Regions from separate parts of the Homo sapiens genome. Here all the other regions are linked to region 3. The links come from fine-mapping of genetic effects on gene expression. A gene starts in region 3. Each other region holds a variant in brackets. All regions are shown on one strand. Distances are from middle to middle.

Region 1 (8,172 bases), 42 kb after region 3:
TTTAGCACAGTGTCTGACACAAGAAATAATCACTGAGTTAATGAATGAACAGTTGATCTAGGAGGCACTGCCTGGATATCAAGGAAGGGACTTCATCTTGGGAAGATTTAGTAATACACTGAAAGCACCAAGCACAATTCCTGGTATCTATTAGAGGTTTCAAAAAACACTTGCTGAAATTCAATCTATTGTGATTTGACTTCCTTGCTTGATGAGGCAATAGGTTCCATTGTTCCATTTGAAAAAAAAGATAAAACCCACTGAAGGAAAAAAGTCCCATTCACTTTTAGACAGAATGACCTTGCTTTCATCTCTTTACACCTAGATCCATTAATCAATCATCAGCCACGTCAGAAGTCTAACCTTTACAGCTCAGTTAACCAACTCTTAAGATGTCTGTCACCCTTTAAGTGCAGAAAGAGGTGTAAACCCAGAGGAAAGTAAGAAAAATCTCAGAGTGCAAGCAGAGACCAAAATAGCTGGGCTGAGCCAAAGACGTAGAGATCATAGACAATATGGTGTGACTGGTCTGCCGGCCAGAAGGCAGGATTTGGGTTCCTGAGAAGCCAAAGCTGAGAAGTCCCGGAGTGGTGGCAGTGAAAGGAGAGAGCAGAGAATACCAAGGAGAACAAAATGTGCACAGAAGAGGGAAGAGAGCGGGAGACAGCAGAGGTGGTGGTGAGGTTAGAAGTGGCAATGGGGGTGGCAAGAGGCAGAGCTCTGGCAGTGCCTACAAGTATCCAGAGCCCTAAAGCTAAGAAATGGCAGAATTCAGGCATATTCCGTACGGTCAGAGTGTTGGACAGGCAGCCCTTCCCCCTCCCAGGACTTCCTATACCTCACACTCCTGGAGTGCAATGCCTTATCTCAGACAATAGTGAGCTCAATATGCCTGTGCTATGTCAGGGTATGGCACCATCAGCTACCCAGTTGTCCAAACCAGCAGCCTCATATGACCTGTGACTCTTCCCTCTCCTTCACTGCCTACATCCAGTTTCCTTTTTTGTTTGTTTGTTTGGTTGGTTTTTTTTTGAGACAGGGTCTCGCTCTCAGCCATGGCTCACTGCAGCCTTGAACTTCTGGGCTCAAGTGATCCTCCCACCTCAGCCTCCTGAGTAGCTGGGACTACAGGCGTTTGCCACCACGCCTGGCTAATTTTTCTTTTTTAATCTTTTGTGGAGACGAAGTCTCGCTGTGTTGCTAGGGCTGGTCTTGAACTCCTAGGCTCAAGTGATACATCTGCCTTGGCCTCATAAAGTGCTGGGATTACAGGCGTGAGCCACAGCACACTAGTCTTTTACCAAAGAACTATGGGTCCTACCTCCTAAACATCAAATGTTTATTTCTGTCCCTTCATTCAATAAATATTTATTGAGGACCTACTATGTACCAAGTACTGTGTGCTAGGGCTAAAAGAGCAAACAAAAACATTCTAGTCCCAGCCTGGCCAACATAGCAAGACACCTCTCTACAAAAAAAGAAAAAAATTGAAAAACAGCCAGGCGTGGTGGCTCATGCCTGTAATCTCAGCACTTTGAGAGGCCGAGGCAGACAGATCATGAGGTCAAGAGATCGAGACCATCCTGGCCAACACGGTGAAACCCCATCTCTACTAAAAATACAAAAATTAGCCGGGCGTGCGCCTGTAATCCTAGCTACTCGGGAGGCTGAGGCAGGAGAATCGCTTGACCCCAGGAGGTGGAGGTTGCAGTGAGCCAAGATCACGGCACTGCACCCCAGCCTGGCGACAGAGCAAGACTCTGTCTAAAAAAAAAAAAAAAAATTGAAAAAAGTAGCCAGGCGTGGTGACACACCCCTGTAGTCCTAGCTGCTCTGGAGACTGTGGCAGGAAGATCCTTGAGCCCAGGAGTTGGAGGCTGCAGTGGGCTGTGGGCGACAGAATGAGACCATGTCTAAAACAGAAACAAAAACAAAAACCAAAAACAGCATTCTAGTTACTTTCTAGTAGTTATGGTCTAGTGGAAGAACCATGTGGGAATAAGTGCTGTGAAGAATAGAGCCGGTTGGAGAGATGGAGAGTGGGACAGCTATTTATGGAGGGTGATCAGGGACAATCTCTTTGAGCAGGTGACATTTGAGCAAGAGATCTGAAGGAGGTGAGGGAGTGGACCCTGTGGCTACTAGGAAAGCGTGTTCCAGGATGAGGGAACAGTAAGTGTGAATGCCCTGAGGTGGCTCTAAGAGCTTTCCATCTCTGCAGTTAAGAGCCTTTATGATATGGTCCCTGACTCCCTCTGCAACCCCTTTTATCTTTCCCCACCTAGTGCTCTGTGTTCCAGTGAGTTCCAGTTCTCCCAGGCCCTTACACGTATTGTTCCTTCTATTCAGTTCACTCTCCCCTCCTCCCTCTTTGGGGAGCCTTGGCCTCTTACATCTATTTCAGAAGGTCCTTGTACATCCCTGTCAGTCCCCCATCTGTTTCCTTATCGCAATTCTTACCACACTGTATTGTAACCACATGTTGAAATATCTGTCGCTTCCTCCTGACTCTAAAATGCATATATGTCCTCCTCATCATTGTCACCCCAACAGCTAGCACAGGGCCTGCCATAACCATGACGAAATGGACATGTTGTTCAGTGTCACTTATAATTGACTATGTTACCCATTTAGAAAAGTCTTCTATTAGCACTGGCTCAGTAGCCAGCCTCTGCTCTCTGTGCCTCGGCTCTGCAGTTATCTCTGAGTCCCTCACCTTGTCCATCTCCTTGGTCAATCCTAACTTGAGCAAATGGTCCATCAGCAGCTTCAACCCCCAACACTAAGATATTATTGTATCACTGTATGCAGGCATGAATGGTGGCCTAAGATCATTCTTCCTCATCCATTGCTATATTGGCTTAATGCTTACAACTGGGTTTTTTCCCTCAGTTTCTCTCTCTAGCATTCAAGTTCTAAGCTGAGACTGCTGTGACCCTAATCTATTTTTCAGGGTCTCAGATTCCCTGCCTAGTTCTTAGACAGCCTCCTCCACAGAGTTAGACTGTATTCTCAATACACTTGGGAGCTGAATGGGGTCCTATCTAAAAAGACAGCTCACTTGGGACCAAGATGCCACCACATACCAAATATTACCTAACTTTTCTCTTTCCAGCAGAGTGCCCTTGGGCAAATGACCTAACTCCTCTAAGCATCACATTCCTCATCTGTTAAACAGATGTTTAAAGAAGGGCTGTTAGGAGGACTCAGTGAGATGATGCACTGTGGTAGGTAAAATAATGACCCTTCAAAGACAGCCACATCCTAATCCCCAAAACCTGGGAATATGTTGCCTTATGTGGTAAAAGAGACTTTATAGAAATGATTAAGTTAAGGATCTTCAGATGGGGGAGATTAGCCCGGATTATCCAGGTGGGTCTAATGAAATCACAAGCATCCTTATAAGAGGAAGGCAGGGGGTTTGAGTCAGAGAAGGTGTTGGGAGACATAGGTTATAGCAGTGCTGCTGCTGCTAGAAGGGGCCACAAGCCAAGGGATGCGGGCATTCTCTAGACACTGGAAAAGGCAAGGAAGAGATCCTCTC[CT/T]AGAAACTCCAGCAGGAATGCAGCCCTGCCAATAACTTGATTTCAGTCCAGCAAGACCCATTTTGGACTTCTGACCTCCAGAAATGTAAGAAAACAAGTCTGTGTTGCTTTTAGAAATAAGTTTGTGGTAATTTGTTACAGCAGCAAGAAGCATTTAGCAGATTCTGGCACATAGTAAGTGTTCGTACAATGTTATTGTCTATTCCTGCTCCCATACTCCTTGGAAAGAACCGCTGAAAGGCAGAGACGCTTGGCTCCATTCCCAGCTCCCCCACCAACTTGCTCTTAGTGATTTTTTTTTTTTTTTTTTTTTTGAGATGGTGTCTCGCTCTGTCGCACAGGCTGGAGTGCAGTGGTGCGATCTTGGCTCACTGCAACCTCTGCCTCCTGGGTTCAAGTGATTCTCCTGCCTCAGCCTCCCGAGTAGTTGGAATTACAGGTGCACGCCACCATGCCCGGCTAATTTTTGTATTTTTAGTAGAGACAGGGTTTCACCATGTTAGTCAGGCTGGTCTCGAACTCCTGATCTTAGGTGGTCCACTCACCTCAGCCTCCCAAAGTGCTGGGATTACAGGTGTGAGCCACCTCACCCAGCCCTTGGTGATTTTTAATAAGTCATTTCTCCTCTTTGACCACCACGTTTGGTTATTGCTGCCAGACCAAATCACTGGGTCTTTCTGGTGACTCCTCAGGGATGGGTCCTATCACTGTGTCAGTTCCCTCCACTTCTTGTCCCACCAAAACCCTGCTTCCTCCTCTACCCATATAACTGAGGTCCCAGCCTTGCTGCTGAGCCCACCTGAGTTATATAACTAATTCGTAAAATTTCATACTGAAGGCATAATCATTCAGGTATCTAGAAAATGCACTGGTCACCAATACTCAGAGATCATCTAATTTAACATACTTGTTTTGCAGAAGAGAGAAAGAAAACTCCGGGAGGGGAAATGACTTATTCAAAATCACAGAGCAAGTTGGTAAGGAAGCCAGACATGGAGGCAAGCATCTCTGCCTCTCAGAGGGTTTTCTGTCATGCTACACCCTCTGCACTAGCTCTAGTTTGCCTCCAAATGCTGTTTTTTTTCTTCACTTACAGCCAATCTAAAAAGGGCCCTCAGGATCGCCCACAATGCCCAGCTTAGCTTCTTGACAAACACCTTAATGGCGCAGCATTGCCTGTTGGCTGCCATCGGCTCTTGAGTGGGTGGTAAGTGCACTAGCGGGAATTCCCTGGCGCTCTGCAGAATGTCCTTGGCCCACTCCCAGGAGGCCACCACAAGCCAGATGATCACCATACCCGGGGAGGTGGCACATTTGGGGTTTTGGGTCAGCACTGGGATGTCCAAGTTTTGCAGTTCTGGGGAGGCCTCTGCCCACAGTCAGGAGTGTGGCCATGGTCTCATTCACTCTCTGGAAAAGGAGAGGCCTTAGTCTTCCTCACCCTGTCCAAGGCCCTCCCGCAGATCTGCTAATTTTCTGTCCCCTGAGGCTCGACTTCTTGGTGAGTTAAGAAAAGGGAAAAGTGAAGACAAAGACCAGTGGCCAGGCCTCAGGGTTTTTAAAATTTAAATTAAAAAAAATTTTTTTTTGAGACATAGTCTTGCTCTTGTCACCCAGGCTGGAGTGCAATGGCGTGATTTTGGCTCACTGCAACCTCCGCCTCTCGGGTTCAAGTGATTCTCCTGCCTCAGCCTCCTAAGTAGCTGGGATTACAGGTGCCCACCACCACGCTCAGCTAATTCTTTGTATTTTTTAGTAAAGACAGGGTTTCACCCTATTGGCCAGGCTGATCTCGAACTTCTGACCTCAGGTGATCCACCCACCTCAGCCTCCCAAAGTGCTGGGATTACAAGTGTGAGCCACTGCACCTGGCCTAATTTTTTTAAGACAGGGTTTCACTCTATGGCCCAGGCTGCAGTGCAGTGGTACAATCTCTGCTCTCTGTAGCCTCAACTTCTTGGGCTCAAGCAATCCTCCTGCCTCAGTCTCCCAAGTAGCTGTGACTGTAGGTGTATGCCACCATACACAGCTAATCTTTGTATTTTTTGTAGAGATAGGGTTTCGCCATGTTGCCCAGGCTGGTCTCAAACTCCTGGGCTCAAGTGATCCTCCCAGCTTGGCCTCCCAAAGTGCTAGGGTTACAGATGTGAGCCCCACAGCCAGACCAAGTCTCAGTTTCTTAACTGCAACAGGGAGATGGTTGAACTAAATAACCTGTAAGTCATGTTAAAAAGTTCCATTATTTTAGCCTAAGTGGATTGACTGTGAAGCCGATCTTCTGGTTCCTCATTGCCAGTCTTAAAGTCCAGATTCTTTAGCATGACACAACAACCCTTACAATGTGATGCCAATGCACCTTTCCAGCCCTGTTTTCTTTTGTAGAGATGGGGTTCTGCTCTGTCGCTCAGGCTGGAGTGCAGTGGCACAATCATAGCTCACTATGACCTCAAACTCTTGGTCTCAAGCAATCCTCCAGCCTCAGCCTCCTGAGAAGCTGGGATTACAGGCATGAGCCACCATGCCTGGTTCTGCCAGCCTCATGTTCTGTCCTGTACCTTCTACCCTTTATTGCTCACCTCAAGTACCCCAACCTCTAGCTATACTGACCTAATTGTGTTGCCTGAGCATATCCTGCAGAGTCCTGCCTCTGTGCCTTTATTTCATTCCCTCTCCCTAGAACTCCTTTCCCATATGTACTCTGGCCTCCCCATGGTGCGCTACTTCAAAATGCAACTTGAATGCCACTTCATCAGGGAGGGCTATCTGTCTGGGGTTAAATGGACTTTCTATGTGCTCCCAATGGCATTATATGTATCCTCATTTATAGCATATTTTGTATTACATTATAAATAATGGTTTACATGCCTGTAGTCCCCTTTGAACTCATCCTCATGGAAGTTACAGCCGGTGGGAGAGATAGACATGGAAATACTAAACATTTCATTACAGTGGTGATAAGTGGAATGAAAGAGAAGAACCAGGAGCTACAAAAGTGTGTGGCAGGAGATATAGGCTGTGATATCAGGGATGGCCTCCCTGAGTACATGACATCTCAGCTGACATCTGTGAATGAACAGAAGAGGCTAGGTGAAGGCTGAGAATGAGACTCCAGGAAAGAGTACCTTACTGAATTCCTGAATGGGAAGGAGCCTGTATATTAGAAAAAGAGAGGGAAGGGCAGGGTGACTGGAGTCTAGTGACCAATGGGGAGAATGGGTGGTATAAAAGGAAGTCAGAGAGATGGGAAGGACTCAGTCATGCAGGGCCTCATCGGCTTCATTAAGCATGTTTTTGTTTTTGTTTTAGACAGGGTTTTGCGCTGTGGCCCAGGCTTGAGTGCAGTGGTGTGATCTCTGTCCACTGTAGCCTCAGCTTCCTGGGCTCAAGCAATCCTCCTGCCTCAGCCTCCCAAGTAGCTGTGACTACAGGCACATGCCACCACACCCAGCTACTCTTTGTATTTTTTTGTAGAGATGGGGTTTTGCCATGTTGCACAGGCTGGTCTCAAACTCCCGGACTCAAGTGATCCTTGTGGGTGCTGCGTCCAAGGGAGTTTATAATATTGTTCTTTCCATTTTCATATGCATTTGAAAGTTTTCCATAATAAAACTAAAAGGAAGAAGTGATAGTAGTACAGTAATAATAGTATAATCTTTGTCCTAAGAGTCATTTTAAGCCAGGTGAGGGTGGGAGTAAGGTGATCAGATTTTGGTTTGTTTTTAATTTTTTTTATTATTCAATATTTCAGTCATTCAGAAAGGCATAAAATAACAATATATATTGGAAAATCACCAGCCAGCTTTGTCAAACATTAGTTTTTGCCATATAGGCTTCAGATATAACTGACTCCTGAGTGGACTGATTGATTGATTCATTGATTGATTTTTGATACAGAGTCTTGCTTTGGCTGGAGTACAGTAGTTCAATCCTGGCTCACTGTAACCTCCGCCTCCCAGGTTCAAGTGATTCTTGTGCCTCAGCCACCCAAGTAGCTGGAACTACAGGCATGTACCACCATGCATAGCTAATTTTTTTGTATTTTTAATAGAGATAGGGTTTCACCATGTTGGCCAGGCTGGTCTCGAACTCCTGGCCTCAAATGATCTTTATACATACATATGTATAAAGAGAGAAAGGAGTAAAGAACAACTCCTGACTTTCTGGCCAAGTACTTTTGGTGCCCTTTATGCCTCGTAAGTGTTTGTGGCATAGAATTGAGTCTTTAAATTACTGCTAACAGGCAAGGCCAGGGCTCATGCCTGTAAGCCCTTTGGGAGGCCAAGGTGGGCGGGTCACTTGAGCCCTAAAATGAGTACTCGCCCCTAAGTTGTGCTAAGAAAGCTTAAAAGCATTCAGGGCAGGAGCCAGCAGCCAGAACAACTCAGGAACAAACTCCAGTCCCTCCACTTCCTCAACATGGCTCTGAGCAGGTCGCTCCTCTGCTCAGAAACCTTTAATGACTCCCCTCAGCCTTTGGACAAAAGCCAAATGCACAATCTGCTCTCAGTCTCCCTCTCCAGCCTCTTCTCCTTATACACTCTTACTGGAAACAGCAAGTAACTTGATGATTCAGGCACATCAAATTATCCACTGTTTCCTAAACATGCCATGCATTTTTGTGGAGCCA
Region 2 (8,155 bases), 270 kb after region 3:
GGGGGAAGTGTCACAGTTAACCAGGCCTCTGTGTGATGTGTGACCGTGGTGCTTGGTGGGACTGCTGCAGCAGGGCCAGGCTTGAGTGTGATTGGACCTGTTGAGGTGTTGGTGCCTTTGAGAAAACAAGTGGAAATGTAGGCAAAGAGAAAGGCCCAGAGCTGCTGAGGGAAGGGGCCTTGTCGATGAATGTGGCAGGCAGGGGTCGGGGATGGGGGTGGGGCCAGGGAGAGATTCCACTGCCTGAGAGCCCAGAGTTCCCTCCTGCAGGTGCTGGCTGGAGTGAGAGGTGCTAGAGGAAAGTGCCTGGTGGCTTCTCAGATTCTGTCCACAGGAAGTGGGCAGGAGACTCCCTACACTAGCCTGGTGCTGACCCAGCAGCCCCAGTTCCTGTCCTTTACCTCCTCCAACCCATTTTGTTTCAGGAACAAGTACTTGTTACTCAACAACCAGGAGCTGAATGAACTCAGTGCCATCTCTCTCAAGGCCAACATCCCTGAGGTGGAAGCTGTCCTCAACACCGACAGGTGAGTGCAGGGGTGCAGCTTTTCCCTCAGCCCATCCCGGCTGCCCACGTTCCCCGGGGGCTCACCGGTGAGCACATCCAGGTATGCACGCGTGTCCTCTCTCACATGCAGCTACAGTGTCCTGAGGGCTCCTGTGTGCCAGGCATTGTATTCATGTCACCTGCATTTTCTCATTGGAGCCTCACAGCAGCCCTAGGAGGGGAGCCCCATCAGTACCTGCACTTGACAGATGAGGTGAGCCTCAGAGAGGTCACCTGCCAGAAGTCATGTGTGCTCCGCACTGCCCCACCGCCTTGTCTCGTGCATTCAGCCCCTTTGCTTATGTGCTCCTTTCTTGCCTGGTGGCATCTGCAGCCAAGCAGGACAGACAGAAGCCTCTTACCTGCTGCCAAGTGTTAGGTTGCATTACCTGGGTTAGGTTTGCCTCACCTGGAGCCAGGCAGTGGGGGGCTAGTCTCACAGGCGTCAGAATACAGTGGACTTTATCCAACAAGAGCCATGATTTCCCAACCTTTTTTGTTTGTTTGTTTTGTTTTGTTTTTTAGACACAAGGTCTTGCTCTTTCTCTCAGGCTGCAGAGCAGTGGTGTTATAGCTCACTGCAGCCACAAACTTCTGAGCTCAAGTGATTCTCCTGCCTCAGCCGCCCGAGTAGCTGGGACTACAGGTGTGCGCCACCATTCCCAGCTAGTGTTTTTACTTTTTTTTTGTAGAGATGGGGTCTCACTATGTTGCCCAGGCTGGTCTCGAACTCCTGGCCTCAAGTGAGCCTCCCAAAGTCCAGGGATTACAGGTGTGAACCACCTCTCCTGGCCTCCCAATCTTTTTTTTCTAAGGTAGCAGAACTCTTCATTCAAATAAAATTGTACCCAGTCCTGCCCTGATGTCTGCAGTGGATCACAGCAGAGCTGCTCTGTTTGAAGGGCCCAGACCCCTGCGTGCCTGGCCGTCTTCCTTCCCCCATGACGGGGCCAGAGTCATTTCCTCATCTCCTGCCTTTGCTTCATAGACTGGGAAGCTGAGGCTTGGAGTTGTGGACACTTGCCCAAGGCCAGCTGGAAGTGAACCTCAGGCACGGAGTACGCTGGGCCTCACCCTATTGGCAGAGTCTTTCCCCATCTGGCAGACTGGCATGACCTGTTTCAACACACTTTTGGTATAAACAGCTCTCCTCTGGCAGTTCTAAGCCATGTCTGATTCTGGATATGTTTCTGGCCTGGGAAGGAAAGCTGGCCTGAGATGTGGTGGGAATGCACTTGGCAGTTTAATTCTGTGGCTGCAGGGGTCTCCGGGGCTCTGGACCCAGTTGGAGCAGGAAGGCATCCTGCAGACTTGGAAATGTCCCCATGGTTTTTCACCGCCTAAGCCAGCAGAATGACCCATCCCCAGGGCCCCTGTCAGCCTCTCAGATCTGTCACCAATATCTCTCTTCTATTTCAGGAGTTTGGTGTGTGATGGGAAGAGGGGCTTATTAACTCGTCTGCTGCAGGTCATGAAGAAGGAGCCAGCAGAGTCGTCTTTCAGGTGAGTCTGGGGAAAAGTACCTGCCGATTCTGCGGGGCTGCAGAGCCAGGTGTTTCTCAGGAGGTTAGGAATACCTCCTTTAGTCACCAGCGTCCATGCCTCCTGAAGCACAATTACTGTTGGGGAGAGGTGGTTTGACTGCCATCTTGTGTAGTTTTGACTCGACAGGTATGTGAGAGCTTCTTCTGCAGCCCACAGTGACCGAGCATTCACCAAGCACCTGTTCTGTGCTGGTGCCTTATGGGTGGGAGAGAACTAGGATACGGGCCCTGCCATGAATTCCCTAGAGCTGTGCTGTTTCAATGCAGTGTGGGAAGGAATGGAGCCAGGGTTGGCCCAGGAGCTATAGCAGCAAAGGAAAGCCTCTTCCGCTGCTAGGGCTGGGGGCTGGGTGAATACAGGGAGACCTTCTCTGAGGTCCTTAGATACATCTAAGATGAGTCTTGAAGTCAGTGGACAGGTAGAGTTCCATCAGGGCCGGGCGTGAGCTGTCAGGAGGCTTCATGCCCACATGGGCCTTTGTCACTTCAGTGCCTTGTCCAAACTCCCTGTCGTGGATACCCGCTGTGCCCTCTGGGTCCCTCGGTCAGCATCAACCACTACTTCCCTAGGCCAGCCCATCGTCTGTGAGCCCAGTGGCCTGTCTGCATGTGTTCGTCCGCTTCCCACACACATTCCTGGCCCCTCAATTGCACGTCCTCCCATTCTTGTGAAAGGGCAAGGCCTAGAGTATGTTTCACGGGGGCTCGCAGGAGCCAGCCCTTCGATCCCAGATGTTACCCTTTCTGTGACACAGCCCCTTCCAGACAGACCCAGATAGAAGACTTCTCCACTGAGCTGGCTCTCTGTGAGGATGGGGGCACTGCTGTGTCCCCAGGCCCAGGATGAAGCCTGATGCTTGGTAGATGTTCAGTAAATGTTGAGTACATGAAAAGGCAACAAACATCTCCCAACCCCTTGGAGAACTGAACATGGGCCGGAAGAGGGCAGCCTTAGCCACCTGAGCCAGTATTTGGGTCGCAGGTTTTGGCAAGCTCGGGCTGTGGAGAGTTTCCTCCGAGGGACCACCTCCTATGCAGACCAGATGTTCCTGCTGAAGCGAGGCCTCTTGGAGGTATGATCTGGAGCAGCCAGTGTCTTGGGTTCCGTCTCCCCCCAGCCCACGC[G/A]TTGCTGTGTCCTGTCCTGAGCCCCAAACAGTTCATCAGGAGCAGAGCAGATCTCGTGACTTCCAAATGCCTGTGCAGGCTGCCTTAGATTTTGCCCTGGGTTTCCAACTGTGGGTTCCCCATGGGTGCTTACGGGGTGACAGGTTTAGAGGGTGGCCAGGCCATGCAGGAGGGTGACAGTTTGGTTACCCAGCAAGGCATTTTGACCCTGAAGATATTTTGTACTAAAAGTTAATTTTCCTTTATTGAATAATGGTCTTCAGAAAAAGTAAAACTTAGAGCAGAATGGCCAAAGTTATAATTGGTCTTTCAGATTTTTTCATATGGACAAGAAACTGACCCACGAATTATAAAATCCATGTGGAAAAGAATTGATCCAAATCAATGTAACTTCAAGAAAATGTAGAAAACTTTATAAAGGAGTAAATTGGCTTTATTCTCTTGATGAAAACTCAGTATTTTGGTGTAAACTCTATTTAAACAATTTCGTTCATAAACACAAAGACAAACCATGGGGTCAAAATGTGTCCTTTGCTTTTAAATTCTGTCCTTCATTTACTTGAATGACCTCAGTGCTTAGGCAGTGGCCTGTGTTTTAGACCTGGTGATGACAGCTCCCCTCACCTAGGAGCTGAGCACCCCGGCCATCTTGGTGACCACAGAGCAGGTCACAGGCTTCAGCTGTACGCCCTGGGCAGGGGAGAGATTGTGCTGCATTCCCAGTCTGCTCCACCTCCTGGTGAGGTCTGTCAGGCCTGGTCCTGTCCTTGGAGCCACCAGCATCCTCAGACAAGAATCTAGACAGTGTTGCCAGTTCCATCCCCAGGATGCTTGCTCAAAGCCAATGCATGGTCTGAGCTCCATGCCAGGCCCTGGTGGGGGCAGCCACGTTGACACCTTCACCCTGTCCCTCCTCACCCAGCACATCCTTTACTGCATTGTGGACAGCGAGTGTAAGTCAAGGGATGTGCTCCAGAGTTACTTTGACCTCCTGGGGGAGCTGATGAAGTTCAACGTTGATGCATTCAAGAGATTCAATAAATATATCAACACCGATGCAAAGGTAAAGTTAACCCAGGGCTCTGTGGAGTGTGCTGGGTTGTCCAGAAGTTCACCTGGAGTCCTGGTCTGCCAGGCTTTAGGCACAGGTTTTACGTTAGAGACGACGGGGGAGTCTGGGCAGTCTTTGGCAAACATTCATTGGAACCTGCTCTGTCTGGCTTTGTGCTAGACCCTGGGAATGCAGGGATGAAAACCGGGGCTGCTTGTGGGTAGGGAGTGAGGGTGGGAATGGGTGGCTTGTGCGCCTGCCGTGACGCAGCATGGTGGGTGCCACGGTGGGAGCCGCTGTAGGGAGGGACTGGGCCTGGTGTGTTAGGCTCACCGAGTGTGTGTGACAGAAACCCAGCTCAGGCTAGCTGAAGTAAAATTAAAAGTAAAAATTAAAGGAATCCAGCACCCTTGAGCGTAAAACCACTGGAGAGAGTGTCGGATCTGTGCTGAATTCCGGGGAGTGCCTCTTAGTACCTGGGTGGTGAGGGGAGGTCCCTCAGCTTATCTGAGCCTCTGTCTTCCTATCTGAAGCAGTGGGGCTGGTAGAGGTCGCTGATGCCCCTTGTAGTGACTATCCCCCCGGGCCATGGCCATACCTGGCCAGCAGCCCACTGCCTGCTGTGAGCTTGGTTTCTGTATAGTTCCAGGTATTCCTGAAGCAGATCAACAGCTCCCTGGTGGACTCCAACATGCTGGTGCGCTGTGTCACTCTGTCCCTGGACCGATTTGAAAACCAGGTGGATATGAAAGGTACATGAAAGGCAGGCTGTCAAGGCAAGTCATGCAGGGTAAGAATGCTGGCATCAGACACCCTGTCTCCAGCAGGGAGACAAGAATGACTGAGGGAGCTGCACCAGATGCCCACGTGGCCGGCCTCAAGGTGGCGGCTTCCAGGGCAATTGGCTTTGCTGCCTTGTTCAACACTTTAATAAGGTGAAAATCCATTGTTGCTAGCAAGATGCAAAGAAAACCAGAAAAAGACCTTCCTCTTCTGGGCTGGTATTGCCTGGCACGATGAGTTGGCCCCCTCGTCCTCAGTGTGCTGTGCGTGGCATCGCAGGTGCCCTGTGGTGCAGCAGGCATCTGAACCCTCCTGGACTTGCTAACGCACTTCCATGTGTATGCGCACGCGTTTCCTTTTTTTCCTAGGAGAGGGCTTGTGGCATCCAGCAGATTCTCCTGAGGGTTTGTGACCCCCCCACACCCCCAAAAAGTCAGGCACTTGTTCCTTGTCACGGTCACTGTCATTGATAGCAAGAAGTATCCCGGTTGTTGGTAATTTAGCCGTTTGCTTCCTTTTTCTGCCCCAGAGGGTCTGTTTCAGGGGAACAGCCACACAGATTTTGGTACCTTCGGTTATTGCCCTGCCTCCCAGTTGTGCGGGAAGCAGTTGCTCCGACACTAGTGGACGGAGCAGAACCTGTGCCTTGTGGTCTCAGCACTGGGCCGGACTCACCTGAGAGCTGGTGTGGAAAACCAGTTGCGCTAGGACCTCTGCAGAAGGAGTGGAACTTTTGCGTTGTTTTTCTTAATGCAGCGTCATGGATCCATCTTCCTGTGGAGGGAACTCTTCTGTGTGTGATATGGAGGGCACGGGTCTGGAGCCAGTCTGGGGAGGGCTGAGGGAGAGCTGCCCTGAGCTTGGTTCTGGAGGATGAGGTGGGGTGCTCCTGGGCACTCTGAGAACATGGCTTTGCCTGGTAGCAGGACAGCTGGAGGTCCTTCTTTCTGCCACAGTCAGCTTTCGTTGAAGCTGTTTTGATGATGAGCTCCTAGCTTCAGAGTCAGGACCCAAGCGGGGCTCCACGAAAGGCCTGGGCGACCCAGCCACTGGGCCTAAGCCTGACCTGCTGCACCCCTGCCTCCCTCCACAGTTGCCGAGGTACTGTCTGAATGCCGCCTGCTCGCCTACATATCCCAGGTGCCCACGCAGATGTCCTTCCTCTTCCGCCTCATCAACATCATCCACGTGCAGACGCTGACCCAGGTGAGAGGCCCCGGCAGACACACAGCAGGGAAGGTCGATTGGAAACCACTTCCTTTGTCCTGGTGCCCAGCAGGTTTCTGTCCCCCACTCCAGAAGTGCGTCTCTGGAGACCCAGCTCTTCTGAGGACTGTGCTCAGGAGGAATCAGTGTCCCATTGTACAGACAGGGCCTAAGGAAGGAGGGCTCGCAAGTGCCCTCAGGTCACAGGCTGACTTGCAGGCCAGTGCTCTCCCCGCCTCCCCCATGTCCACGTCCCTCACACCTTCTGCCCTGCTGGGCTTTGGAATCGGACCTGAGGCTGCCCAACTCCCTCACTGAATAGTCATGCAGCCTTCCCTTCTCTGAGCCTCCTGCCCCTCTTTTCTAGAGTGAGGGTGATCTTAGCACCTCTCAGAGGTGGTCTTTGGTTCCGTTCTGAGGTGAAGCACCAGGTGGGAGTGCATGGTGAGTGGGGCAGAACTCTTTCCCCACCGAGGCGCGCAGGCTAGTGCTGAATGGCACTTCTGAAGCGGGATAACCGCCCCAACACACGCACCCAGCCCTGCCTGGGACGGACCTTCCGGAAGGAGTGATGCTTGAGCCCAGGTCTGGACAGGGACAGGTGTTGTTGCCTCAGGTGGGGTGGGAGGTGGGCGTGGGGAAGAGGAAGGTGCTCAGTCAGGAAACTGGGGCTGCTGGGGGCCCCCTTCCCCCAGTCCTATCTCACCTCTGTGCAGGGAGAGCTCTGTGGGTGGCCCGAGGCCTGGGGCCACTCTCCTCCCTGCCTGATGGCTACCCAGGTTCACCAGGGGCCACTGGGGCTCCCACCAGCCCCTGACCCTGTGGGCCTGTGGCCTTGCAGGAGAACGTCAGCTGCCTCAACACCAGCCTGGTGATCCTGATGCTGGCCCGACGGAAAGAGCGGCTGCCCCTGTACCTGCGGCTGCTGCAGCGGATGGAGCACAGCAAGAAGTACCCCGGCTTCCTGCTCAACAACTTCCACAACCTGCTGCGCTTCTGGCAGCAGCACTACCTGCACAAGGACAAGGACAGCACCTGCCTAGAGAACGTGAGTGCCCCACCCTCAAGGGGGTGATGGGTGGGCCGCGGACCCAGGGCCTCTCAGAGGGGTGTCCCGGTGCTGGGCTTGACCTGGGTCCTCCAGGCGCCCCCCAGCCCCTCCCTCTTTGCCCAGAGCTCCTGCATCAGCTTCTCATACTGGAAGGAGACAGTGTCCATCCTGTTGAACCCGGACCGGCAGTCACCCTCTGCTCTCGTTAGCTACATTGAGGAGCCCTACATGGACATAGACAGGGACTTCACTGAGGAGTGACCTTGGGCCAGGCCTCGGGAGGCTGCTGGGCCAGTGTGGGTGAGCGTGGGTACGATGCCACACGCCCTGCCCTGTTCCCGTTCCTCCCTGCTGCTCTCTGCCTGCCCCAGGTCTTTGGGTACAGGCTTGGTGGGAGGGAAGTCCTAGAAGCCCTTGGTCCCCCTGGGTCTGAGGGCCCTAGGTCATGGAGAGCCTCAGTCCCCATAATGAGGACAGGGTACCATGCCCACCTTTCCTTCAGAACCCTGGGGCCCAGGGCCACCCAGAGGTAAGAGGACATTTAGCATTAGCTCTGTGTGAGCTCCTGCCGGTTTCTTGGCTGTCAGTCAGTCCCAGAGTGGGGAGGAAGATATGGGTGACCCCCACCCCCCATCTGTGAGCCAAGCCTCCCTTGTCCCTGGCCTTTGGACCCAGGCAAAGGCTTCTGAGCCCTGGGCAGGGGTGGTGGGTACCAGAGAATGCTGCCTTCCCCCAAGCCTGCCCCTCTGCCTCATTTTCCTGTAGCTCCTCTGGTTCTGTTTGCTCATTGGCCGCTGTGTTCATCCAAGGGGGTTCTCCCAGAAGTGAGGGGCCTTTCCCTCCATCCC
Region 3 (8,172 bases):
CAACAACAAAAACTTAAGCCTAGTGACCTCAAAGTATTTTCCTATTCAGTTAAAATACTCTGATCTCTAACCATGCCCTTAGGACTTGAAGCAAGTTCTGACAACAAGGGAGATTTTAGCTTAGTCCTTGTGTATTTTATGATGGGAGTGACCTGGAATTCAGAAATTGATTGGCGTGTATTTGTAGATTGTTCATTCTTGTTGCTGTATGGTGTGTTTTGTGTAAGTATATCACAACGTATTCATCCATTCCATCGACAGTGCATTTGGGCAGTTTTCACTTTGGTCTGTTAGGAATAGTGCTGCTGGCCGGGCATGGTGGCTCACGCCTGTAATCCCAGCACTCTGGGAGGCCGAGGCGGGCGGATCACGAGGTCGGGAGATCGAGACCATCCTGGTTAACACGGTGAAACCCCGTGTCTACTAAAAATACAAAAAAATTAGCCAGGTGTGGTGGCGGGTGCCTGTAGTCCCAGCTACTTGGGAGGTTGAGGCAGGAGAATGGTGTGAACCGGGGAGGTAGAACTTGCAGTGAGCCGAGATTGTGCCACTGCACTCCAGCCTGGGCAACAGAACAAGACTCCGTCTCAAAAAAAAAAAAAAAAGTAATAGTGCTGCTATGTTTTTTTAGTGAACACATGTACATATTTCTACTGGGTATATGATACCTAAGAGTGGCATGGCAGAGTCACAGGTTATGTGACTATTTAGTAGTAGTTGCAGATGATGCCAGATAATTATCTAAAGTGATTGACCAACTTACACTCCTGTCTCAGTATGAGAGTTCAGTTGCTCCATATATCTTTGCCAACACTTGGAATTGATGACTTGTAAAAATTTTAGTCATTCTGGCTGGGGGCAGTGGCTCACACCTGTAATCGTAGCACTTTGGGAGGTCGAGGTGGGCGGATCACCTGAGGTTAGGAGTTCGAGACCAGCCTGGCCAACATAGTGAGACCCCATCTCTACAAAATCACAAAAAGTTAGCCAGGTGTGGTGGCACGCACTTGTAATTCCAGCTACTCAGGAGGCCGAAGCAGGAGAATCACCTGAACCCAGGATGCAGAAGTTGCAGTGAGCTGAGATCGCACCACTGCGCTCCAGCCTGGGTGACAGAGTGAGACTCTGCCTTAAAAAATAATAATCTAGCCATTCTGCTATGTGTGTAGTGTTAGCTCAGTTTTTTTTGTTTTTTTGTTTTTTTTTTTTGGAGACGGAGTTTCGCTCTGTCACCCAGGTTGGAGTGCAGTGGCGCGATCTCGGCTCACTGCAAGCTCCGCCTCCCGGGTTCACGCCATTCTCCTGCCTCAGCCTCCCGAGTAGCTGGGACTACAGGCGCCCGCCACCACGCCTGGCTAATTTTTTGTATTTTTAGTAGAGACGGGGTTTCACCGTGTTAGCCAGGATGATCTCGATCTCGATCTCCTGACCTTGTGATCTGCCCACCTCAGCCTCCCAAAGTGCTGGGATTACAGGCGTGAGCCAACACGCCCGGCAGCTCAGTTTTTAAGTAGCAAAATATACAGCTAATGCCAAGAGCTCAGCTTCCCTCCCAGTTGGTGATGGTGAAGTAGGCAGGATTTATTGGGATTCCTGGGTGGTCTCTGGCCTGCCCTGGGTGTTTTCCAGATCAGTGGGTTGGAGGGCTGGGCTCTGGGCCTAAAGCTTTCCTGGGAAAGCTGATTGGGCTGGGCTGAGTGGTATCCTCAGCCCCTAGGGCTCAGCAGGCATCTTGTGTATTCACCCTCTAATTTGGGTTTCTCCAGGGAACAGGCACGGTCTCCTGGTACCCAACAATACCACCGACCAGGAGCTGCAACACATTCGCAACAGCCTCCCAGACACAGTGCAGATTAGGCGGGTGGAGGAGCGGCTCTCAGCCTTGGGCAATGTCACCACCTGCAATGACTACGTGGCCTTGGTCCACCCAGACTTGGACAGGGTGAGGCAGCCCAACTTGACCCAAGAGTCACAGGGCCATCCTAGTCAGTGGTTAGCCACTGTTCTTTCCCAACAGGCAGCAATTAGGGGTCTCTCCTGTGGTTTTTCTATATGGGCTCTTGAGTTTCAGGTACTCATTGGAATAGTGATAACAGAGGCCTTATCAAGTGTCAGAAAGAAGCTGGGGAGGGTATGAATCCTTCATGATTGGGGAGATTGAACCATCCAGTCCTGCATCCTGGGCCAGGATAGGTGATTGACTGTTGAACTTTTGACTGTGGGTGAGAGGGGAAAGAAGTGATATTGAGACCAGCCTCCAGCTGTTCAGGGCATGCATGAATATTAGGGGCTTCACAGCTGCCCTTGACTCTGCTCTAAGCTGTACTTCCTCCTTTCTCTGGGTGAGGCTTTCATATGAGGTACAGAGGAGAAATGAGGGGCTCAGGGAGCCAAGGCCTGGATGCTTCTGGGCATGGAGAACCTTGGTTCTGGGGCTGTAAGTTCTGAGCCCTGAACACAATATCTTTGATTGACAGGAGACAGAAGAAATTCTGGCAGATGTGCTCAAGGTGGAAGTCTTCAGACAGACAGTGGCCGACCAGGTGCTAGTAGGAAGCTACTGTGTCTTCAGCAATCAGGGAGGGCTGGTGCATCCCAAGACTTCAATTGAAGACCAGGATGAGCTGTCCTCTCTTCTTCAAGTCCCCCTTGTGGTAAGCATTCCTGTCCTCTGAACCCCGTCTCCCGAGGCAGATCCTTTTGCCTAGTGTTTGGGAGTCTGGGTCATTACCTGCCACAGTTTGGGACTGGGGCTGCAGGTCAGGGAGGAGCAGGGTTTGGGGAGAGTCTTCATTGAGGAGGGAGAGAATTTGGTGCCGTGACTCACATTGAGCCCATCCCTTGGCAGGCGGGGACTGTGAACCGAGGCAGTGAGGTGATTGCTGCTGGGATGGTGGTGAATGACTGGTGTGCCTTCTGTGGCCTGGACACAACCAGCACAGAGCTGTCAGTGGTGGAGAGTGTCTTCAAGCTGAATGAAGCCCAGCCTAGCACCATTGCCACCAGCATGCGGGATTCCCTCATTGACAGGTACCTGGGGCCTCTCCTTTCTTCTGCTCAGGGTTGGGGGTTAACTTGCATTTTGAGAGTATGGGGAAAAGATGTCATCTAGAATGGGAGCCTACCAGTTTGTTCTGGTAGCTTCTCGAGTGTGAGAGCATATCTGTACACTGCTGAGCAGATAAGAGCCAGCATATTCAAAAAATATTTCTTGAGCATCTGCTAATCCTCATCTTTGTGGTTTTTCAGGGCTAGGATACTAGAGCAGTAGCTGCTTGAGCAGCTTGTCAGAGCTGGTCCCGGGATGAGGGCTGAGGCAGGCACCTCACTTGAGAGTGAGGTGGGCTCTGTGAAACAGCTACTGACCGTGCGCTTTCCTTTCTCTTCAGCCTCACCTGAGTCACCTTCCAAGTTGTTCCATGGGCTCCTGGCTCTGGACTGTGGCCAACCTTCTCCACATTCCGCCCAATCTGTACCGGATGCTGGCAGGGAGGTGGCAGAGAGCTCACTGGGACTGAGGGGCTGGGCACCCAACCCTTTTCCACCTGTGCTTATCGCCTGGATCTATCATTACTGCAAAAACCTGCTCTGTTGTGCTGGCTGGCAGGCCCTGTGGCTGCTGGCTGAGGGTTCTGCTGTCCTGTGCCACCCCATTAAAGTGCAGTTCCCTCCGGGCCATTCTGAATGTGATGTTTGGGGCCCTCAGCCTGTGTACAATCCCTGCACTCTCCAGTTGTTCCAGCATTCTGGGAAGATAGGGTGGGATGAACACAACACACACCCAACCCAGTTCACCACCTCCACACACGCCATTCCCTTCTCCTCTACCATCAGGATGTGAGGCTTCATCCTGGGGCAAGAAACACTCTCCACTACAGTTCTCCTTTTTTCTTTTTTCTTTTTGAGGCAGTGTCTCCCTCTGTCACCCAGGCTGGAGTGTTGTGACGCAAGGATGGCTCACTGTAGCCTTGACCTGTTGGGCTCAAGCGATCCTCTCGCCTCGTTTATTTTTTTGTAGAAACGAAGTCACTGTGTTGCCCAGGCTGGTTTATACTCCTGAACTCAAGCGACCCACCGCCTCGGCCTCCCAAAGTGTTGGGATTACAGGCGTGAGCCACGGCGCCCGGTCTAGTTCTCACAGTTTTCACCCGACTTCTGCGCCGGTCTTCTCTGGCCTTGAAAGGCAGAGAGTCCGTTCCGATTTTCCCCTGAGCTGGGCAAGTCCCCTGTGAGAGCTCTGGGGCATCTGGCTTCGGGGCATTCTTTGACTAAGGTGGATGGAGGTTGCAGGTCTTTTCCTGGGTGGGCGTGGGGCGGGGCAGCGGGTTCCCAGCGTCCTCCTGGCCTGGGCGTCTTGGAGGCTGTTGGGGTGCATTCCGTCCCCTTGCGCGGGGCGGGGCCTTGAGGCGCTGGGGCGGGATTGGCGGGGGACGGTCGCGGAGCCCCGCCCCGAAGCACAGGGTCGAGTCCCTTCTTTCCGCTCCAACGCACGGAGGGTGAGGTCGGTACGCGGTGGTGGCGTCACGGCGCCAGCTCCTCCCGACGCCGAGGTGGGTTCCGGGAGACCCGCGGGTCTGGCTGCGAGAGGTGAGGGCAGAGCCGGGGCGGGGCCCTAGCGGGGTGTCCCGGCGACCCAGACCTTAAAGGGCTTCTCTTCTTGCAGACCATGGGGGCTCAGCTAAGCGGCGGCCGCGGCGCCCCGGAGCCTGCGCAAACCCAGCCCCAGCCCCAGCCCCAGCCTGCGGCGCCGGAGGGCCCGGAACAGCCCCGGCATCCGCCCCAGCCCCAGCCCCAGCCCCAGCCCCAGCCCCAGCCCGAGCCCAGCCCGTGGGGGCCGCTGGACGACGTGCGCTTCCTCATCGCCTGCACTTCCTGGTACTGACGGCGTCCTCCGCAGGATGTCGCCCGTCTGTCCGCCGTCCCCTGTGGTTCTTGCCTGCCTTGTCTCCTCTCCCCACGTCCCTGCGTCTCTTACACCCCCTCCCACCCGAGGCTCCCCAGAGATAGCAGAGAATTCGAAGAGGTCGCCGGGGACTGGAAAGAAGTCCCGGCAGGGCCGCCTTCGCAGTCTACACCCCAGCCTGCTTCCCAGCCTACACCCAGACCCAGCTCAGACCTTCGTGACCACCCCATCCCTTTCTCCGGCTGGCTGGGTCGGGGGCATCCCTCTCTGTCGCTGGCTTCCAGAGGCAGGACAGGCCTCCTGGTAAGCCCGCAAAGTTGCTGACCTCCTGACTTCGTCTGCCTTTTATTAATATCTGTATTGCTGATAACCGTGCTCTTGACTATGTGTCCCAGGTCATGTCCCAGGTCATGGAGAAGCCCGTGCCACAGTGACCCTCCCCATACTCCTGGGGGGGCTGCTCTCCATCCTGGATCGTAAGGAGGCATCATCAGGCTGTGTTCCTGGAACCCCAATAACCCTGGGCCCCCAGGGCCAGCCTGTTGTAGAGGGAGGCTATCTGACCGCCGGTCTGGCAGAGGAGATGGGTGGGCAGCTCCCAGACACCCCAAAGGACCCGGTTCTCTTCCCAGAGCGTCCTAAGGTTACTCTTGGAACCTGATCTTTGTTCCCTCATCCCAGGGAAATGACACACTCTGTATTTCTGTTTTATTTAGAAATGATTTAAAAAACATTATACAAAGGCTGATCAGTTTAAAATGTGACTGACACTGAAATGCTGTGATGTCCCCCAGGCTGAGGGGAAGCTAGGCTCTGGGGCCCCCAGTGCTTTGCCCCTCTGTCTGCCCTGTCCTGGGGTGATGGACAAACAGATGACCACAGGCAGGAGAATCTGAGATTGGAAGCCTCTAGGCTGAGCCCTCTGGGCCTGGCCCCACATCCCTCACCTCTGCAGCCTGGGCTGCCTGCCTCCATCTCCTGTTCATTCTCAGCTGGCCTGCCAGGAGCCAATGGGGAGCCTGGCGGGAGGCGGGGGTGCCTAGAGCTTTCAAGAAGTGAGAGCACCAACCTGAGGAGTGGACAGGGACCAGGAAGTGGGGGAAGGGAGGCCAGGAAGAGGTGGATACAGGAGACACTTCTCATCTCATCTCAGACCCTAGAGGGGTCCACAGATGGGGACACAAGACCCAGCCAGCCCACTGGATGGCCCGGGCAAGTAACAACCTCTCTGTGCTTCATCTGAGGGCACGGTGAGAGTTACCGTCGGCCTCCCAGGGCCTAACACGAGTTTCATGTGAGTGGACAGGTGTGAGCTAATAAAGTGCTTTGCAAAGTATAAAACACTGTACAAACCTATGAATCACTAATATCTCCGCAGTTGTTCCCTGCCTGTCCCAGGGAGCCTGCCCTTGGCCAAAATGAGAAAAAACAAGGATGATGACAGGGGACACAGCGGACCCACATGGGCACCTCTGGGACAAGAGATTTTGCTTGAGACAGCTCCCAGGGCAGCAGGAGTCCCTGTCTGTGCTACAGGGTAAGCCGACCCCAATCCCAGAGACCACAGGGTCGGGGGCAAGGCCCATGCAGGCTCAGTGAGCAGGGGTGGCATCCGAGACCCGGCCAGCACGCTGGAGACTGCCTGACACCTTTTTGGCTTTGGCAGAGAGCCAGTGGGCATTGATGAACCCATTGGCCTTGTCTAGGGCTCCTCAGTGACAAGCAGGGCTGCCTCCGCCGTACTGTGGAGCAAGGCAGGCCAAGCCCTAGGAACTCCTGCTGGAGACAGTGAAGGGCGGGCCAGTGAAGGTCAAAAAGGGAGCCCCCTCAGCTTGGGGCTGCTACCGGTAGGGGTGTCCTTCTAAGAGCAGTGTGGGAAGATGGGCCCAGTGAGCGAGGTCAGCAAGGGCCAAGCTCTGGGAAAACACTGCTTCCAGCCGAGAGATTGAGTCGGCCTCAGAGTAGCTGGAGTCGGCCTCAGAGTAGTGGGGGCACTGAGCACTTCAGACGCCCTGGTCCCCTTCCGAAGGACTCCCAGGCTCTGCCAGTGTTGGCCCTGCAGCCATCTCTGCCTCACCTAACTGGTGAGGCTGAGCTCCAGGCTGCAAGTGACAGACTGGAGCAAAGCTGGGGACAGTGACAATAGAGGGGAGTGGAGGACGGTCACAAACTCGGATCTTCCTCCAGAAATGGGGTCAGCTTCTGCCCCAGCTCTGTAGCCATAGGAGCAGAGCTCAGCTACTGGGGTGTCTGGGCGCTAGAGTGGCCTTAGCAGCACCTTGGTCCTTGTCGCCTGGGGGAGGGCCGCTATGCTGGCCTCATCACCAAGACAGTCACCTCTAGTTCACCTAAAGCCTCAAGCAGCCTTTGCAAAATGGGACAGTAGTGACAGGACATTTAAATATTCACGATGTGACAGCTGGGTCCTTGTCAGACCCAGCTGGGCCACAGCCCTGCCTGCAGCATGTGACCCTAAATCCTGGGTCTCCGAAGAGACCCTGACAAGTGGAGCAGGTTTCCTGAGGGATCTGCCGTCTGCCAGCAGGGAAACCCAGGCTTGTTGCTCACTGTGTCAGAAGCAGGGGTCCTGTAGCCTTGGAGGACAGTGGGGTGGGGGTAGGGGGACATCTGACCAGCAGGTGTTGGCAAAAGGGGACCAGGACTGGTGGTATCTCCCGGATGGGGGATGAGAGCTAGTGCTGGCTTCCCACAGAGGGTGCTGGGTTCCAGCCAGGAGTGGAGCTGTGGTACCTCATGGACACCACAGGATGCCGTGACCACAGGGGCTCCTCCTGGCATGGTCCCTGCCTCCGGATGGAGCCTGGCCTATTCCCTTAAGTAGGGAGTAGTTTGCCCAGGACAGAAGGCTGGCAGCTGGGTGCCAGACACCCACCCTGGGGCACAGCCCCCATAATTCCCTGCCCCACGCTCAGCCTAGGCCAATGCACCCACCACTTCAGCTGTACGACCCCAGCCTAGGGCCCTGCTGGCCCTGGTGAGCACTGGCCAGAGCTGCCCCTCAGACCCTGGTGAGGAAGGGCCTGGCTGGCCAGACCAAGTGGATAGAGAGGGCTCTGGGCTGCTCACACCCATTCCTGGACTGGCCGCTTATAGTAGGTGACAGGCTGAGGGCCTGTCTTGTTCTTGAACTGGAAGATGGTGTAGACCAGCACCAGGATGCAGAGGGACAGGATGCAGGGGATGACCACGGCCACGGCGTTCACGGAGCCCGGCACATCGTTGATGGTCACCATGATGTCCACGTCGTC

What was found. PIP is the estimated chance that this variant, and not a neighbour inherited with it, causes the effect. A credible set is the group of variants that fine-mapping cannot tell apart.
Region 1: its variant is the best candidate, but not a certain one, in a credible set for the expression of MMP24OS in whole blood (TOPMed, PIP 0.89).
Region 2: its variant is the best candidate, but not a certain one, in a credible set for the expression of MMP24OS in whole blood (TOPMed, PIP 0.90).

What each region holds. Positions count from the first base shown.
Region 1 is chr20:35,232,661-35,240,832 of GRCh38, reverse strand. It overlaps MMP24-AS1-EDEM2 (MMP24-AS1-EDEM2 readthrough), which reads left to right. Exons shown (of 15, transcript NM_001355008.2): 3 at 4,642-4,752. The region is part of intron 1 of MMP24 (matrix metallopeptidase 24); the gene reads right to left. Among named protein-coding and RNA genes, the nearest start is that of MMP24, 10 kb to the right of the region's middle. RefSeq lists an enhancer at 1,861-2,000. The variant CT/T (reference allele first, on the strand shown) is at 3,545.
Region 2 is chr20:35,002,559-35,010,713 of GRCh38, reverse strand. It overlaps TRPC4AP (transient receptor potential cation channel subfamily C member 4 associated protein), which reads left to right. Exons shown (of 19, transcript NM_015638.3): 12 at 426-527; 13 at 1,967-2,050; 14 at 3,074-3,164; 15 at 4,139-4,279; 16 at 4,911-5,019; 17 at 6,144-6,256; 18 at 7,098-7,304; 19 at 7,431-8,155. The coding sequence ends at 7,568. Among named protein-coding and RNA genes, the nearest start is that of MIR499B, 16 kb to the right of the region's middle. The variant G/A (reference allele first, on the strand shown) is at 3,217.
Region 3 is chr20:35,274,424-35,282,595 of GRCh38, reverse strand. MMP24OS (MMP24 opposite strand) reads left to right here and starts at 4,474. Exons shown (of 2, transcript NM_001355003.2): 1 at 4,474-4,587; 2 at 4,664-6,244. The coding sequence starts at 4,667. The coding sequence ends at 4,882. It overlaps MMP24-AS1-EDEM2 (MMP24-AS1-EDEM2 readthrough), which reads left to right and starts at 4,474. Exons shown (of 15, transcript NM_001355008.2): 1 at 4,474-4,550. It overlaps MMP24 (matrix metallopeptidase 24), which reads right to left. Exons shown (of 9, transcript NM_006690.4): 9 at 5,598-8,172. The coding sequence ends at 7,987. EIF6 (eukaryotic translation initiation factor 6) reads left to right here. Exons shown (of 7, transcript NM_002212.4): 4 at 1,767-1,942; 5 at 2,478-2,654; 6 at 2,849-3,030; 7 at 3,390-3,678. The coding sequence ends at 3,399. RefSeq lists silencers at 4,295-4,514, 4,605-4,824 and enhancers at 4,955-5,124, 5,245-5,344, 5,931-6,538, 6,539-7,146.